2 linked regions of the Homo sapiens genome follow. The protein of the gene in region 1 interacts with the protein of each later gene in a pairwise test. Each region holds a gene or a part of one and is shown in the gene's direction. Other genes may lie near its edges. The genes, in order: KAZN and TNS4.

Region 1 (7,655 bases):
GGATTTCACCGTGTTAGCCAGGACGGTCTCGATCTTCTGACCTCGTGATCTACCTGCCTCCCAAAGTGCTGGGATTACAGGCGTGAGCCACCGCACCCGGCCGTGTTTTCCTTTTTCATTTGGCAGTAGGTGGTGGATGTTTTCCCGTGACAGGACTTTTTATTCATTGCACATATTCCAACATATGAATGGAGCGTCATTCCTTCAAACAAACTCTCATCAATAACCATTCATATTGCTTCCTAGTATTTAATTTTTCCAAAGTTTTTATTACAAAACTATACATGTTTACTAGGGAACTTTGAAAATACAGAGACATACAACAAAAAGAAAATAACCATATTCTCCCCAGCACAGAAAGGCAGTAACTATGAACATTTGTGTAGACTTATCACCTATTGTTTTAATGTTGTGTCCTGTCTCTATGGATGGATAAGCATTTTTTTTTTACATTCTTGTAATGATTTATAATATTGAATTTCAGCAGGGTCATTTCTAATCAGAGGTTTTGTTTTTTTGTTTTTTTTTTTGATTTTTTTTTTTTTTTTTTTGGAGACGGAGTTTCACTCTTGTTGGCCAGGCTGGAGTGCAATGGCGCAATCTCGGCTCACCTCAACCTCCGCCTCCTGGGTTCAAGCGATTCTCCTGCCTCAGCCTCCCGAGTAGCTGGGATTACAGGCATATGCCACCACCCAGGCTAATTTTGTATTTTTAGTAGAGACGGGGTTTCTCCATGTTGGTCAGGCTGGTCTTGAACTCCCGGCCTCAGGTGATCCACCTACCTCGGCCTCCCAAAGTGCTGGGATTACAGGCATGAGCCACTGTGCCCAGCCAGTCAGAGTTATATTTAAATACTTGTTGTTTCTCATGGTATTGAGTTTGTCTGTTTGGGTGTGTGTGTGTGTTTTTATTTGTTTTGTTTTGTTTTGTTTTGTTTTGTTCTGTTTTGAGTTGGGGTCTCAGTCTGTCACCCAGGCTGGAGTACAGTGGTATGATCTTGGCTCACTATAACCTCCGCCTCCCTGGCTGAAAAGATCCTCCTACCTCAGCCTCCTGAGCAGCTGGGACCCCAGGCACACGCCACCACGTCCAGCTAATTTTTTTGTATTTTTGGTAGAGATGGGGTTTCACCATGTTGCCCAGGCTGATCTCAAACTCCTGAAGCTCAAGCATTCTGCCCACCTTGTCCTCCCAAAGTGCTGAGATTATAGGCGTGAGCTACCACGCCCGGCCTGTTTAGGTTTTTATCGAACCCTCTTTTAGAGAGATTCTTTTCCCCTCTCAATTGAGTCTCTGTAACCTGAACTTTTCATATTTACCAGGCCTTGATGCAACGAACCATATATAGAAGAGTGGGGTTAGAAAATGTTGGTGGATGAACTTTTTTTTTTTTTTGGTCTGTGAGGGCCATTCCAGAAACAGCTTTCAGTGTATTAAGGAATGGAGCTGGGTTCCATTTATCCTACGAAAATAAATCACCCAGTTGCCCAAAGACGACTGCCGCTGTGTTGTTTACAATAGTGAAAAATTGGAAACAACCGCCATGCCCATCAGTAGGAGGTGAAATAAATTACGGAGCCTCCTTCTGATGAATCCCGCGCAGTCAAAAGGTACCGCAGGTCTCTGTGGAGATGGAACAGTCTCCTCCACAGCGAAAGTGAACAGGCATATCACAAATGCACACACCTCAAATGCACGCACCCCGTAAGCAAGCGGGTCTGTGTGTGTTTGTAAGTGTGGCTTTTCTGTATCCAGAAAAGAGTATTTAACAGCTGCTGTCTCTAGGTGGTGTCGATCTAGAAGAATGATGAGACAGGTCTCAGTCATTTTAGGAGGTGTATTTGTCAAAGTTAAGGACGCGCGCCCAGGAGACAGGTCTGTGCCTTTCTCCGAAGATGATTTTGAGGCCTCCAGATTTAAAGGCGAAAGGATATTGAGAAGCACACAGTTTCATGTAAGAGGGGGGCGGGGGAAAATAATCATTCGTGCCTTTGTCTGGCCCAGTGAATCTGCATTTTTACATAAGGTAACATAGACAGATGGGGAACATGCAGGAAATCGACATTTTTACATAAGATAAAGATAAATGAGGCAGGGGAACAATCAGATATGCATTTGTGCCAGGTGAGCAGAGGGGTGAATACTGTGTAAAGATAAGCTATCCATTTACATTGCCATGGTGAATTTTAACAGAAATGCTTTAGGGTAAATATCTCCAAGCTCGCCAGGAATTTCCTTGTGGGCAAAATATGAGGGAGGTGTGTAGCAGTTCATCTTATTTAGGAATCAAAACGGGGAGGCAGGTTTGTGTGACCCAGTTCCCGGCTTGACTTTTCCCTTTGGCTTAATGAGTTTGGGGTCCCAAGATTTATTTGCCTTTCACAGTCACGTGGGGTGATCTTCATTTACTGTTTTATTTTTTTCTGGGATAAGCTTTTCTTCTTTTCTTTTCATAGATTACTTTTGTAATGGGGGCAAGGGCAGAAAAACAAAAACGCCAAAAGCCACTTTGATTTTGAAGAGAATACATGGAGGGGAGGATGTCCCCACCACCCTCTGCCTCCCGGGGGTATGGCCTGCCCAGCCCCTGCCCCCAGCAGCCTCGTCCCCCAGCATGGCCTGCACTTGTGTGTTGCAGACTCGGACAGCCAGTGCAGCCCCACGCGGCAGAGCCTCAGCCTGTCGGAAGGCGAGGAGCAGATGGACCGGCTGCAGCAGGTGGAGCTGGTGAGGACCACCCCTATGTCCCACTGGAAGGCGGGCACCGTCCAGGCCTGGCTGGAGGTGGTGATGGCCATGCCTATGTACGTCAAGGCCTGCACGGAGAACGTGAAGAGCGGGAAGGTAGGCAACTCCGGGCCCCCTATGGGATGCCACCCATGCCCTCTGTGAGCTTTACGTACCCAGAAGCTGGCCTGCCCCCCACTCCTACCCTGGAGTCAGGAGAAGGTGCAATCTAGGAGCTAGCCAATGCAATCAGCCTCTGATGTACCTGCTCATTGTGCCTCCCTGGCAAGGCAGAGAGCCCTCAGCTGCCTCATCCTGACAATGGACCCAGGTTTCCTTTACCTGCCTAAGGGAAAGGGCTCCCTCTGCCTGAACAGGGATTCCGCCCCACATCAGAGTTGCAGAGGTTTCCATGTGCCCTGACCCCACTGTATGAAAGGTGGGCAGGAGATGGGGAAGGAGCCCCATGTCAACAGACCCCCTCTAGGGCAGGAACCCCGCCGGCAGCTGTCCCAGCCCCCATATGACACTCCCTCCCGGGGGCAGGTGCTGCTGAGCCTGAGTGACGAGGACCTGCAGCTGGGCCTTGGGGTGTGCAGCTCCCTGCACCGGCGCAAGCTGCGCCTGGCCATCGAGGACTACCGTGATGCCGAGGCAGGCCGCAGGTGAGCCCACCACGAGGGGCCCCGGGGGAGGAGAGAAAAAGTCATCCTGAGGCCTTTGGTCACACAGGTGGGGTGAGCGGGGCACTGTGGGCTGAACCAGGTGGTGGGGGACAGCAGGGTGTGACTAAGATGGTCCGGGGATGCCCCTGATGAGGGGGCTTGGGCATACCCCAGCCCTGCTCTGGGCCAGCCCCCTCCGTAGAAAGACAGACACATGGGGAAGACAAGAGGCCCCAAAGGCCCTAGTACACCCCCAACCAATGCGGGAACCTCACGAGCCCCCCAGCACTCCTCTGCCTTCCGGGACCAGCCCAAGCAGCTCTGCACACTGGGCCGCCATGGTGTCTGCTCCTGGTTCTTACCATACATAACAGGGTGAGGAAAAACGGTGCAAGGCAGAGCCGAGGCAGGCAGAGATCAAGTAGGCGTGAGTGGGCTTGGTGAAACCTCTCCCATAGAGGAGCGGGCCAGGTGGAGGGGGCTTCTCTTAGCAAGCATACCTGGGATGGCTGCAGGGCCTTCTCATCAGGTGTACCCCCGCAGGCCACCCACCCCCACCGCTCATACCACTCCTGCTCTGCCTCCGGCCTGCCTGCCTCTCTCCTGGCTTTCTGTGAGCAAAATTTGTTGAGCAGGGGCAGCTACAGGGTAAAGGGAAGGAACCCCCACCCCCACCCCGCCCCACCCCGTTCTGAGAATGTGGAGAGGGGAAGAACTCGCTTTGTAAATCTGACACTTCTGTTTTGCATAATTATGTCCTTCACTGGTTTCTCCATCATTTTTGTGTAGTTAGTTAATCAAACCTGGTGGTGTGTGCTGTAATTTGCAGAAGCAGCTTAGGGGATTTTTTTAGAAGCAGGGTTTGGGGTGGAAAATCGGCTGGTTTGGAAGCAGGAAAACCAAATCCATATGTGTGCAGGAGAGGGGCCCTCGGCATGACTCTAGGGTGGCAGGAAGTACTGAGGTGAGACTGGATCAGAAACTTAGGGAGCGACTCAGAGCAAGAAGGTGCCAGGCCTCATTGGCACCATCAGGATGCTGGCTCGTCTGAGACAGGGCTGGGCTGAGGGATGGGGAGGAGGGCCATGAGGGCAACCCCTGCTGGGCTTTCCTTCCTGAGGGTCCCAAAAACACCTTACACCCAGCACCCACCTCCTAACCAGTTCCATCCAGGAATCCCCTAAAGCCATCCCTGAATCCCCTCACCATCTTTGGTCACCCAAGTAGGAAATCCCTCCTGCCCCCTTACCCCACACCCAGCAGGGTCCATAAACACTGCCTGTGTTCAATGAACAGGGTGGGGATGACTGCTTCATCTTTCAAAAACTTCAGGAGTCTGGGCTACTGCCTGGGTTCCCCCTAAATGGGGATAAGCTTTTCTTCTTTTCTTTTCATAGATTACTTTTGTAGTGGGGGCAAGGGCAGAAAAACAAAAACACTAAAAGCCACTTTGATTTTGAAGAGAAGAAATGCATGGGGGGAGGACGTCCCCACCGTCCTCTGCCTCCCAGGGGTGCGGCCTGCCCAGCCCCTGCCCCCGACAGCCTCGTCCCCCAGCATGGCCTGCACTTGTGTGTTGCACAACACAGCCCCTAAATGGGGCTGTCTTAGTCTGCTTGGGCTGCCATAACAAAATGACACCATCTGGGTTGCTTAGACAACAACTTACGTCTCACAGTTCTGGAGGCTGGAAGTCCAAGATCGGGATGCCAGCATGGTTGGGACCTGGGGAGGGCTCTCTTCCTGGCTTGCAGAAGGCAACCTTCTTGCTGTGTCCTCACATGGGGAAGAAGGAAGAGGGAGGGGGAGAGAGTGATGTCTCTGGTCTCTTCCTGTAAGGACAATAATCCCATCATGAAGGGCACCCCTATGACCTCATCTAATCAGCTCCCAAAGGCCCCAGCCACAAATACCATCACATCGAAGGTTAGGATTTCAGCATGTGAATTGGGTGGGGGGCATGGCAGAGGGAAACATTTAATCCCTAACAGTGGCACCACGTTAACCTCCAGGAACCAGGAGTCTGTGGTCCCAGGGATCGTGGAGCCCCACCCTTAGACACCCCCAGGGCTTCCTGGAGGAGGCAGAGGACTTATTTTGAGTTTTCTACTCCCAGTGGGAATCTGGCCTGTCTCCAGTTTGCCACATGACCTTGCCCTCTCTGGGACTGTTTCCCACCTGAGAAGTGAAGGGAGTTAAATTAGGACAGTGGTTTTTAAACTTTTGAGGATCATGACCACTTTAAGAATCTAATAAGAGCTTTTGACACTTTCTCTAGAAAAAATACACAAAACTTCACAACTTTTCACTGTGTTGGGTTGGTGGGTGGGACTCTCTGGCCCACCCACTTTCAGGGCTCCATGGACTCGGGGGTAAGAACTCTAAATGAGTTCATCTTCGAGAACATTTTCAGCCATGACATCTTGTGTGACCATGGGCATGATGGCGTCCTCTCTGGGACTGGTCACCTTATCTACAAAATACCAATGACAAAACCCACCAACCCCTTACCAACCCATCATCACCTTATGGATATCATTTTATTTACCCTCACAACATCAATGCAGGATAGACATGCTTACTCCCATTTTAAAGATGGAGAAGGCCGGGTACGATGGCTCACACCTGTAATCACAGCACTTTGGGAGGCCAAGGCAGGTGGATCACCTGACATCAGGAGTTCGAGACCAGCCTAACCAACATGGTGAAACCCTGTCTCTACTAAAAATAGAAAAATTAGTAGGCGTGGTGGTGTGTGCCTGTGATCCCAGCTACTCAGGAGGCTGAGGCAGGAGAATTTTTTGAACCCAGGAGGCGGAGGTTGCAGTGAGCCGAGACTGCATCATTACACTCCAGCCCGGGCGACAAGAATGAAACTCCGTCTGAAAAATAAAGTCGGAGAAAATTAGATGCAGAGAAATCATGAGCATAAAGTCACACTACAAAAAACCTGACTTCAAAGTCAGTTGCCTTTCCAGTGTCCCATGCTGCCTTTGTGTTAAAAACAAGAACAATGACAGCTTCTACTACTACTATTTATAGAACACTAGGTGTGTCCCAGACCCTGTGTTAGGGGTTTTGCATTCTCCTCTCTTTTAGTCCCTACAACTCCATGAGGCAAGCGCAATTCTCCCCGTTTTACAGAGGAGAAAACGGAGACCCAGAGTTTCAAGGTCCCAGAGCTAAAAAGTAATAGAACCAGAACAGCTTCCCGTTTTCCGTGCTGCGCCGTGACCCAGACAATATCTAAATTTTGTGCCGTCCTCAGATTTCAGAGTCTAATCCGGCTCCAGTTCAGGGATGGGGCAGTGACAGATTTTATAAAATGTCTGAATTCCTTTTAAAATCATGCTGTTTTATTCAACTTGGGCTCTTACAATAAATAGCTCAAACCAACAGCTGGGAACGTATCGCCAAGCTGCGGCCCCATGGGGACACCCTTAATGAAAAGAGAACATTTCTGAAGGGCAGGAGCACATTAATTGTGGGCATGCAGATGGAGATTGCTGATTATGGATGGGCCCCTCTCGAGTAGGTTAAGTGGGGTGCCCCCTTTGCAGCTCTCCACCCCAACTCTTGTTGCACCATTGATTTGCTGACCAAACTCTTGCTTCAGAGAGGAGAGGAGGCCATTCTAGTCTTCATCAGTGACAAATCTGGCCCAGTGGCATCTGATTCAGAGGGCTGTGGGCTCCAGCTCCTGCCCGAGAGAACCGTCCTGTAACAAGGCTGAGGCCGGCCCTTGAGGGACTGGGAGGGGGACTGCCCCAGGACCTTTTCATCCTAGAAGGGAGGTTGTCTTGGGCCAGAAGTTTCCAGTTCAGGAGCTCCAGCTGGGCAGCCTCCAGGTGGACTGGGGCAGATGACCCGCTCACCCAGCACTGCTCTGTCATCCACACATTCGACTATGAGACAAACACTGGTGAGTGTGAACTCAGAGCCTGAAGGGGCCCTGGACATTCACAGATAAGCCACACCCCACCCTGCCCCCCAGGAGCTGACCGTCCAGTGAGGCAGCTGGCCAGATGCGTAACCATGAACCACAATGTGACTGGTGCAGAGATGGGGACTTCCAGGGGCTTTGGACACAGAGAAGGGCTCCTGACCCAGCATGACATCTTGGAAGGCTTCCGGGAGACCAGACGTCTCTGCAGAGTCCATAGGAGTTCACTGGGGGAAGAGGGTGGGGTAGAGGACAGGCCCGGAGACAAGGGGGTCCCAGTGGACCCAAGTGGTTCTGGGAGGCTGATGGGCAGAGGGAAG
Region 2 (7,655 bases), on another chromosome or scaffold:
CAATGGGTAGAGGCCCCAACCCCACCCCCCAGCCACACCCACCTTGAGGTGAGCACGGGGCTCCTCCCTCCCCTCCCGCTCTCCTTACTCAGTGACCCCAGCAAGGTCCCTGATGGATGTTTCAATGGCCCAGTGAGTAGGGAGCCCAGAGCTTCACTGTGCCAAGAGACCCTCCCCAAAGCAGCCAAGCACCTTCTCACAGGGCAAGGCCTTGGAGCAGGTTCCCAAGGAGCCCCTCCTCATCCTGGAAGAAGCAGTCCCTAAACAGAGCTCAACAACACTCCCTGGCTGTGCAGCATTGGATAACTCACTTCACCTTTCTGAGCCTTCCAGATTTCCCATCTGTTATATGGGCATTAATAATATCCCCTACTTCCACAGAGTTGTCATGAGGGTTAAAGGAGCTAATACAAGCAATGTGTTCGTAGTGGTCCTGGCACATTGCACTCAATAAAGACCAGTCTCTGTGAAACATCGTTGTACACTAAGTGTTAGCTCCATCCCCACTCTTCTCCAAGCTTCAGTTTCCTCCTCTGTAAAAAATAATGCCTGCCCTGCTCAAGGGCTATTATAAGGTTCAGAGGAGATTATGGGTGTAAACACTATAAAGTCCTATAAAAATTGAAGTTGTGCTTTCCAGCCTTCCAGAAGAATCCAACCCATTCCAAGATCTCTTTTCTTCCAGAGCCCACAATGCAGTGCCCCAAACACTCTCTTCTTGCAGTCATCTTTCTAAGCAGAGAGATCCCCACCTTAGCCAGAAAAGGGCTCCATTTGGCCAATACTGTCCCCAAAAAGCAGGCAGGTAGGAAATGCTCCTCTCTCGAGCCTCACCATGGGCCAGGCTCCCGGCTATTGTATTTCATCCTCATCACAACCTTGGAAGACTGGTTTCAGATCCTCACTTTGCAGATAAGGAAACTGAGGCTCAGAGAGGTTAGGAAAGTTGCACAATGCCCTTGGCTGAAAAGCAGCAAAGCCAGGACTCACCCCAGGTTTGTTTTGCTACAAAGCTAGGCTCTTCCTCCACCCGCTGAGCAGCAAGTCCCAGTCAGCTGCCAGCCCTTGCTCATCTGATGTAACTCCCCACCCCCACCGTGGCCCAAGCAAGCTCAGACAGAGGCAGTAACTGTGAGCAGGGCCAGATGGCCCTACCCAGGAGCGGGCTGGGGCAGGCTGGGGCTCCACAGTCATAATGGGGAGGAACAGTGCATGTGCCAGGGCCCCAGGCAGGTGGGAGCTGAGGGTGCACGTTCTCCCCAATTTCCCCAGCCTCCATCCCAGGAAGCTAGAGGCAAGACTCACACTCTTCAGAAAGGAGCGGCTCATTAACCCCCACCTTCCTCCAGCTTTGCTGGAACAGCACCAAGGACAATTCCCTTCCCCCAGGTCAGGAGGAAGGGTGTTCATCCTCACCTTGGGGAGAACCTCAGAGCAGCCCACTGCAAGGCCGACCTCGGGAGAGGAACAAGGCCTCAGAATCCCAAGAGTCCTGGATGCCCCGACCAGGGAGTGGAAAGAGCGCTGGAGCGCGTCGGCAGCCTGGGGTGTGTTGGGTGACCCCTGTGTACCAGCTACCATCCCCAGGAGATCCATAGCTCAAGAATGCAGCAAGCCCTGTGCTCAGGGAGTGCCTGCTCCAAAGCAGGGTTCTCAGACTCCACTGCATATTCACATGCCCTGGGTGGCCTCGCTAAAATGCAGATTATGTTTCTGTAGGGGTGGAGCCCAGGTGATGTGGTCCTGCTGAGCCATTCATGGTCTACTGGACTCACCTGAAAAACTGGAAAACAAACAAAACTGAGGCCTGGGTTCACCCCCTGGAGAGTTTAATCTAATTGGCACAAGGCGCAGCCTGGGGTGAGTCTAGTGTGTAACCAAGCTTGAGAATCCCTGCTTTCACTGCAGGTACAGAGAAACCACTTCCTTTTTTTTTTTTTTTTTGGAGATGGGGCTTCACTCTTGTCACTCAGGCTGGAGTGCAGTGGCGCAATCTCGGCTCACTGCAACCTCTGCCTCCCGGGTTCAAGCGATTCTTGTACCTCAGCCTCCCAAGTAGCTGGGATTACAGGTGCCCGGCTAATTTTTGTATTTTTGGTAGAGATGGGGTTTGCCATGTTGGCCAGGCTGGTCTTGAACTCCTGACCTCAGGTGATCCACCCGCCTAGGCCTCCCAAAGTGCTGGGATTCCAGGTGTGAGCCACCGCGCCCAGCCTCAGAGAAACCACTTTCACACATCCTGAGTAGCAGAGGCATCAGAAAGTGTCACTGGTACAACCCATCAAGTGGCCATTTCAACCTAGGAACAGGGCACAGACAAAGGAGAGAGTTGCCCAGTTTTTAAGCACCTGGTCTGTGCCGGGAACAGTGCTGTGCTGCCTACATGAGTTTCACTTCATCCTTTTTGTATCACCAAAAGGCTGAATGCAGTTGCCCCACTTTACAGGTGTGGAAACTGAGGCCCTGGGTGGTGAAGTCTTTTGGCCAAACTCTCTCAGAAAATAAGTGGCAGAGCCAGATCTGAAGCCTGGGTCTGTCTGATTCCAAGGCCTGGGTCCCCTACTGCATCTCCTCACCCAAGGGAAGTTGTCACAGGGAGGGTGACTGGAACTGGGCCCTGAAGGTGGAGTTGGGCTCTCCTCTCTGGGCCTCAGTGTCCTCGTCTCTATAAAAGAGGGGGGACAGAATGACCTTGAGGATACTTCCAGCCTCTCTGTTCTATGAGTCCAGGCTCCTGCATTTCACCAATGCTCTGCTTTTCTCCCCCAAAGACATAAAGTACATCGAGGTGACCTCCGCCAGATCAAGGTGCCACGATGGCCCCCAGCACTGCTCCAGCCCCTCTGTCACCCCGCCCTTCGGCTCCCTTCGCAGTGGTGGCCTCCTCCTTTCCAGAGACGTCCCCCGAGAGACACGAAGCAGCAGTGAGAGCCTCATCTTCTCTGGGAACCAGGGCAGGGGGCACCAGCGCCCTCTGCCCCCCTCAGAGGGTCTCTCCCCTCGACCCCCAAATTCCCCCAGCATCTCAATCCCTTGCATGGGGAGCAAGGCCTCGAGCCCCCATGGTTTGGGCTCCCCGCTGGTGGCTTCTCCAAGACTGGAGAAGCGGCTGGGAGGCCTGGCCCCACAGCGGGGCAGCAGGATCTCTGTGCTGTCAGCCAGCCCAGTGTCTGATGTCAGCTATATGTTTGGAAGGTAGGTTCTGTAGCTTCTAACATTGCACACACACACACAGGCACACGCACGCATGCACCCCCTAAAATCACTGAAAGGGACCCTGCTCTGTCTGAGCAAAATCTGGGCATGCACCAAAACCAGAAGCAAATGTTTGCTTTTACAGCCTTTCAGATCTCAAGCTGTCCTCAAGCATTTAGAATACAATTCAATATAAAAAGTCTTGACTTATAGCTACCTTTTGGTAAAAGAGCCGTTGCCTTAATGAGGCTCATCTATATCCTTTCCAGCCCTCATACAACCCATCTCAAGGAAGGTTTTTTTAAACCCCAAAACACAGGGCTATAAATAGAATTGGGGGGCCTGAGATGAACTATTTAGGAATAAAAAGGTTCCTTCCTCTGTTGCTGGCAAAACCTAGCAAAGGAGTGAGGCAGCCCTGCCTGGGAATCACAATCATCCCAGCTCAGTTCTCTATAGACCTCACAGCAGAACTGCAGGCACATGCGCACCCATTCTGCCCCAGGAAGACCGAACCACAGGACTCTGCTTCCCACTCCACCTCCAAAGCCACTGGCCAAGGCAGTCCCTGGCACAGAGGCTGGGGATTCCACAGCCATGCCCACTGGCACAGGCCCCTGAGCTCAGGAAGAAGTCTGGCTGGATGTGAAGCTGGCCTTCTCCTGCAGCTGGGGAGTTCCCTCTGCATCAGCCACGGTGTGGTCCAGCGTAGGTTCAGCCCATCTGCAGGGCTCCTGGGAGTCATGGGGGCCTGAAGGGATCCTGATCCGACAGCTCAGTCAGAACGGCCTGGCTGGGAAGGCAGACGGAATGTGGGCCAGCCTATGCCCAAAGCCTGCAGGGGTCAGCTCATTGGCTACTTTAAGTGACCAAAGACCCTACCATCCAAGGACATTTCTGTATCCTTACCATCCCTTGAGGATTAGGTGGGCATGCACTTTGCTGTGGGCTGTAGGGGGTGGGGTATGCAGTGTTCTATTTGGCCTTTAAAGCCATGGGAACCCAGATCACCAGATCCGGAGCCTGACTCTAGCCCCTGAGCCACCTGTTGCCCTAACACCCTGTCTGACTCTCTCCCGCTGCAGCAGCCAGTCCCTCCTGCACTCCAGCAACTCCAGCCATCAGTCATCTTCCAGATCCTTGGAAAGTCCAGCCAACTCTTCCTCCAGCCTCCACAGCCTTGGCTCAGTGTCCCTGTGTACAAGACCCAGTGACTTCCAGGCTCCCAGAAACCCCACCCTAACCATGGGCCAACCCAGAACACCCCACTCTCCACCACTGGCCAAAGAACATGCCAGCAGCTGCCCCCCATCCATCACCAACTCCATGGTGGACATACCCATTGTGCTGATCAACGGCTGCCCAGAACCAGGGTCTTCTCCACCCCAGCGGACCCCAGGACACCAGAACTCCGTTCAACCTGGAGCTGCTTCTCCCAGCAACCCCTGTCCAGCCACCAGGAGCAACAGCCAGACCCTGTCAGATGCCCCCTTTACCACATGCCCAGAGGGTACGTCGTAAACCAATATTTGAAGCAATGTAAGATTTGGGGAATAGACAAAGTGCCAGTGGGTTTCTGCAACAGCCAGTCAACACATTTATTGAGCAACTATTGTGTGTCTGGCACTATGCCAGGTAGTGAGGACACACAGAGGGAAACAGTTTAGAAAGAGACAAAAACAAATCATCACGGTAGGGTAGGATAAACGCGGAGGTAAAGAGATATTCTCAATCATATTGGCCAAAGCTGAAGGAATGATTCTTTCAGTCTGGAGAACAGAGGAAGCGACATCCGAGCTGGATCTGGGAAATGGATCAGAAGTTTGTGGCCAGAGAAGGAGAGGAAAGGCATTCCCAGCAGAGAAAGCAGGGGGTCCACAGTCATGAAGGTGTGGAAGCGCATGGCATGTTCAGGAAATGCCGGAATGTTGGGTGCAGGTTCAAGTCATTGAGAGTAATTTGAAACCAGATTGTGAAAGGCCTTAAATGCCAAGCTAAAAAAAAAAAAAAAAATGGAATTTGCCTTTTAAGCAATAGGGTACCATCAGAGAGCCTCCTCACACAGGAGAGTGATGGGGTCAGAGGTGCTCGCTCAATGGATCACCCTGGCAGCTCAACGGATAGCAGGGTCCTGAACCGGGATAGGGCAGTGGGAGTGGAGGAGAGAGGACAGAACCAGGCGACCCTCAGGATGTGCTTGATGACTAACTCAAGGAGAGCAAGAGGGCGAGTCAGTTCTGACTCTGACGTTCGCAGATGATGAGAACACAGAGGGGGTGGATGGGGTAATAGAGACAATGCATTCCAGTTCAGACAGCCGAAAACCACAAAACAGCAAACACCCTCCTTCCCGGAGTCTGAGATCACAGGCGTCCAAGAAGAACAAACCCAAGCAGTAAACCCAGAAGCTAAGCTCTAGCACCCTGTGGATGCCTCTCCCATGAGCAGAGTCCCCTGCCAACCCCCTGTTCCCCCTCCCTCGGCCATCGGGGGGCTTCTCAGCCCCCACTTGGCCATGACGCTCACAGGCATCAAGGCGACTCCAGAGGGGGTGGGGGTGGAATGTTTACTATAGCCCACTGCTCACTCCCACTCACGAAGCCATGTGGAGGCAAGCAGGAGAAAATGACACTTCTGGCGTGCCTTTGCATCTGCCCTGATCGCTTTCCTAGGACAAATCATTTGCAGATTTTAGTACTTTTTTTGAATGAGTTACTTGAGAGTAAGTGGTCACAACACTCCTTTTCAAGCCGCCAAGGTTGACAGCTACTGCTCTCTGCCTTAGGGACCCAGGGAAATGGCCATTTTGGCATCCCAAAGCGCACATTTACTTAGCCTAGTGATATTCCCATCCTGCTTTGGTCCCATAATATCACCAACTATACCCCCAGATCTTATCAAATTCTGCAAAATATTCCTAAAACAAAATTCATTTTAATTCCATAGACTACTAGAACATTAAAGACCCTCAGAAGCTGTTTAGTCCACTTGGTCCCCTCTGAGCTTCAGTTATCCCATATCAGAGTCAAGATCCAGGCTCCCGCCTCCCAGGGGCATGTTTTTCTGCCCAGATCTGCTATTTTCCTCTCCTTCACGTTTTCTGCCATTTTCTTTTCCAAGCTGAATATTCCCGTAAGGAATTCTTAGGATTATGAAGACGAAGGAGAATGTAATATCAAACATGATGCATTTGAGAATTCCTTGTTTATCTCTTATTTCAGTCCTCACCAGGGGACTCAACAGTAGATTTAAGAAACCATTTCTCCTTAAACTGAGGTTGTATCTATTCATTCCTTATTCATTACCAAGGATACAAGGGCACTTCTGAGTTCTAGATGCACCAAACCCTGGCATCCTTCTGTTTGATTTTCCCTCATCGTAGGCAGTTTGGAGATACAATGGGGTTAGGGTCTGGGATGGTGGTTGAATGAAACCTTGGGGCAATAGAGTAGGGAAGGGTCTCCAGCCTTCTCTGGTGAACATCCCTCAGCTCCCGTCTGTCCAGCCTACAGGGTCCCCCTTCTCTGTCTGTCTCCAGGTCCCGCCAGGGACATGCAGCCCACCATGAAGTTCGTGATGGACACATCTAAATACTGGTTTAAGCCAAACATCACCCGAGAGCAAGGTAAAAGGAAGCACGAGTGACCCCAGAATAGGGTCTGGGTCTTGCACTTTGCATCAGGCAGGGCCCTGGGTTACAGTTAAGGAATGGCAAATAGTGGGTCCTGGGAAGCGGGGGAGGGGGATGTCCTGCTGACCTCATGACCTCCCGAGGAAGTAGGAACCACAGCAAGAATGGTGGAGATTTGACAGTACAAAGGACTTCCTGGGGACAAAAGGTGACTCTGTAACATCTGCTCTGTGAAGACCCTACGGGGCTGGGGACAGGGTGTCCAGGTGGGGCGGTGTCCATCTCTGACTCAAGGATTGTTCCAGCAATCGAGCTGCTGAGGAAGGAGGAGCCAGGGGCTTTTGTCATAAGGGACAGCTCTTCATACCGAGGCTCCTTCGGCCTGGCCCTGAAGGTGCAGGAGGTTCCCGCGTCTGCTCAGAGTCGACCAGGTATGCGTCTGTCTCTGTGCTCACTCAAGGCCTCACTGAGGCAGCGGGGTGTGGTAGGTTCCAGTCCTGGCTCTGGCACTAGCTTTCAGGGTGACATGGCGCCAGTCTTATAACAGCTCCTAGGAGAAGCGTCCACCCCAGTGTTCTCCCCGATGCCCTCCAGCCCCAAGGCACCCTGAAAAACGCCTTTCACAGCAAGCCTGCGTGCTTCTGCCTTCCCGAGCCCCACCCCCACTTCCCTGCTTTTTTCTGATGGTGGGAGAGAAGGAGGAGGGTCCTAGCCCCCTCTAGGCTGCTCTTCTTGGAGTCAAACTGGATTCATTTCCAGGGAACCTAATGTGTGATTACACACGCAGCTAGCTTATCTCACAGGTGATAGCTTACCAGGTTTGTGTACT

Evidence for each region.
Region 2: the proteins of KAZN (region 1) and TNS4 interact in binary tests that used the Homo sapiens proteins (3 or more experiments, as listed by UniProt).

What each region holds. Positions count from the first base shown.
Region 1 is NC_000001.11:15,091,542-15,099,196, forward strand, and holds part of KAZN (kazrin), read left to right. Parts: intron 1-2,638; coding exon 2,639-2,844; intron 2,845-3,273; coding exon 3,274-3,392; intron 3,393-7,386; coding exon of another isoform or gene 7,387-7,393; exon of another isoform or gene 7,394-7,655. UniProt on the Homo sapiens protein: Component of the cornified envelope of keratinocytes. May be involved in the interplay between adherens junctions and desmosomes. The function in the nucleus is not known.
Region 2 is NC_000017.11:40,484,086-40,491,740, reverse strand, and holds part of TNS4 (tensin-4 precursor), read left to right. Parts: intron 1-2,771; coding exon 2,772-3,195; intron 3,196-4,280; coding exon 4,281-4,705; intron 4,706-6,733; coding exon 6,734-6,820; intron 6,821-7,131; coding exon 7,132-7,257; intron 7,258-7,655. UniProt on the Homo sapiens protein: Promotes EGF-induced cell migration by displacing tensin TNS3 from the cytoplasmic tail of integrin ITGB1 which results in dissociation of TNS3 from focal adhesions, disassembly of actin stress fibers and initiation of cell migration.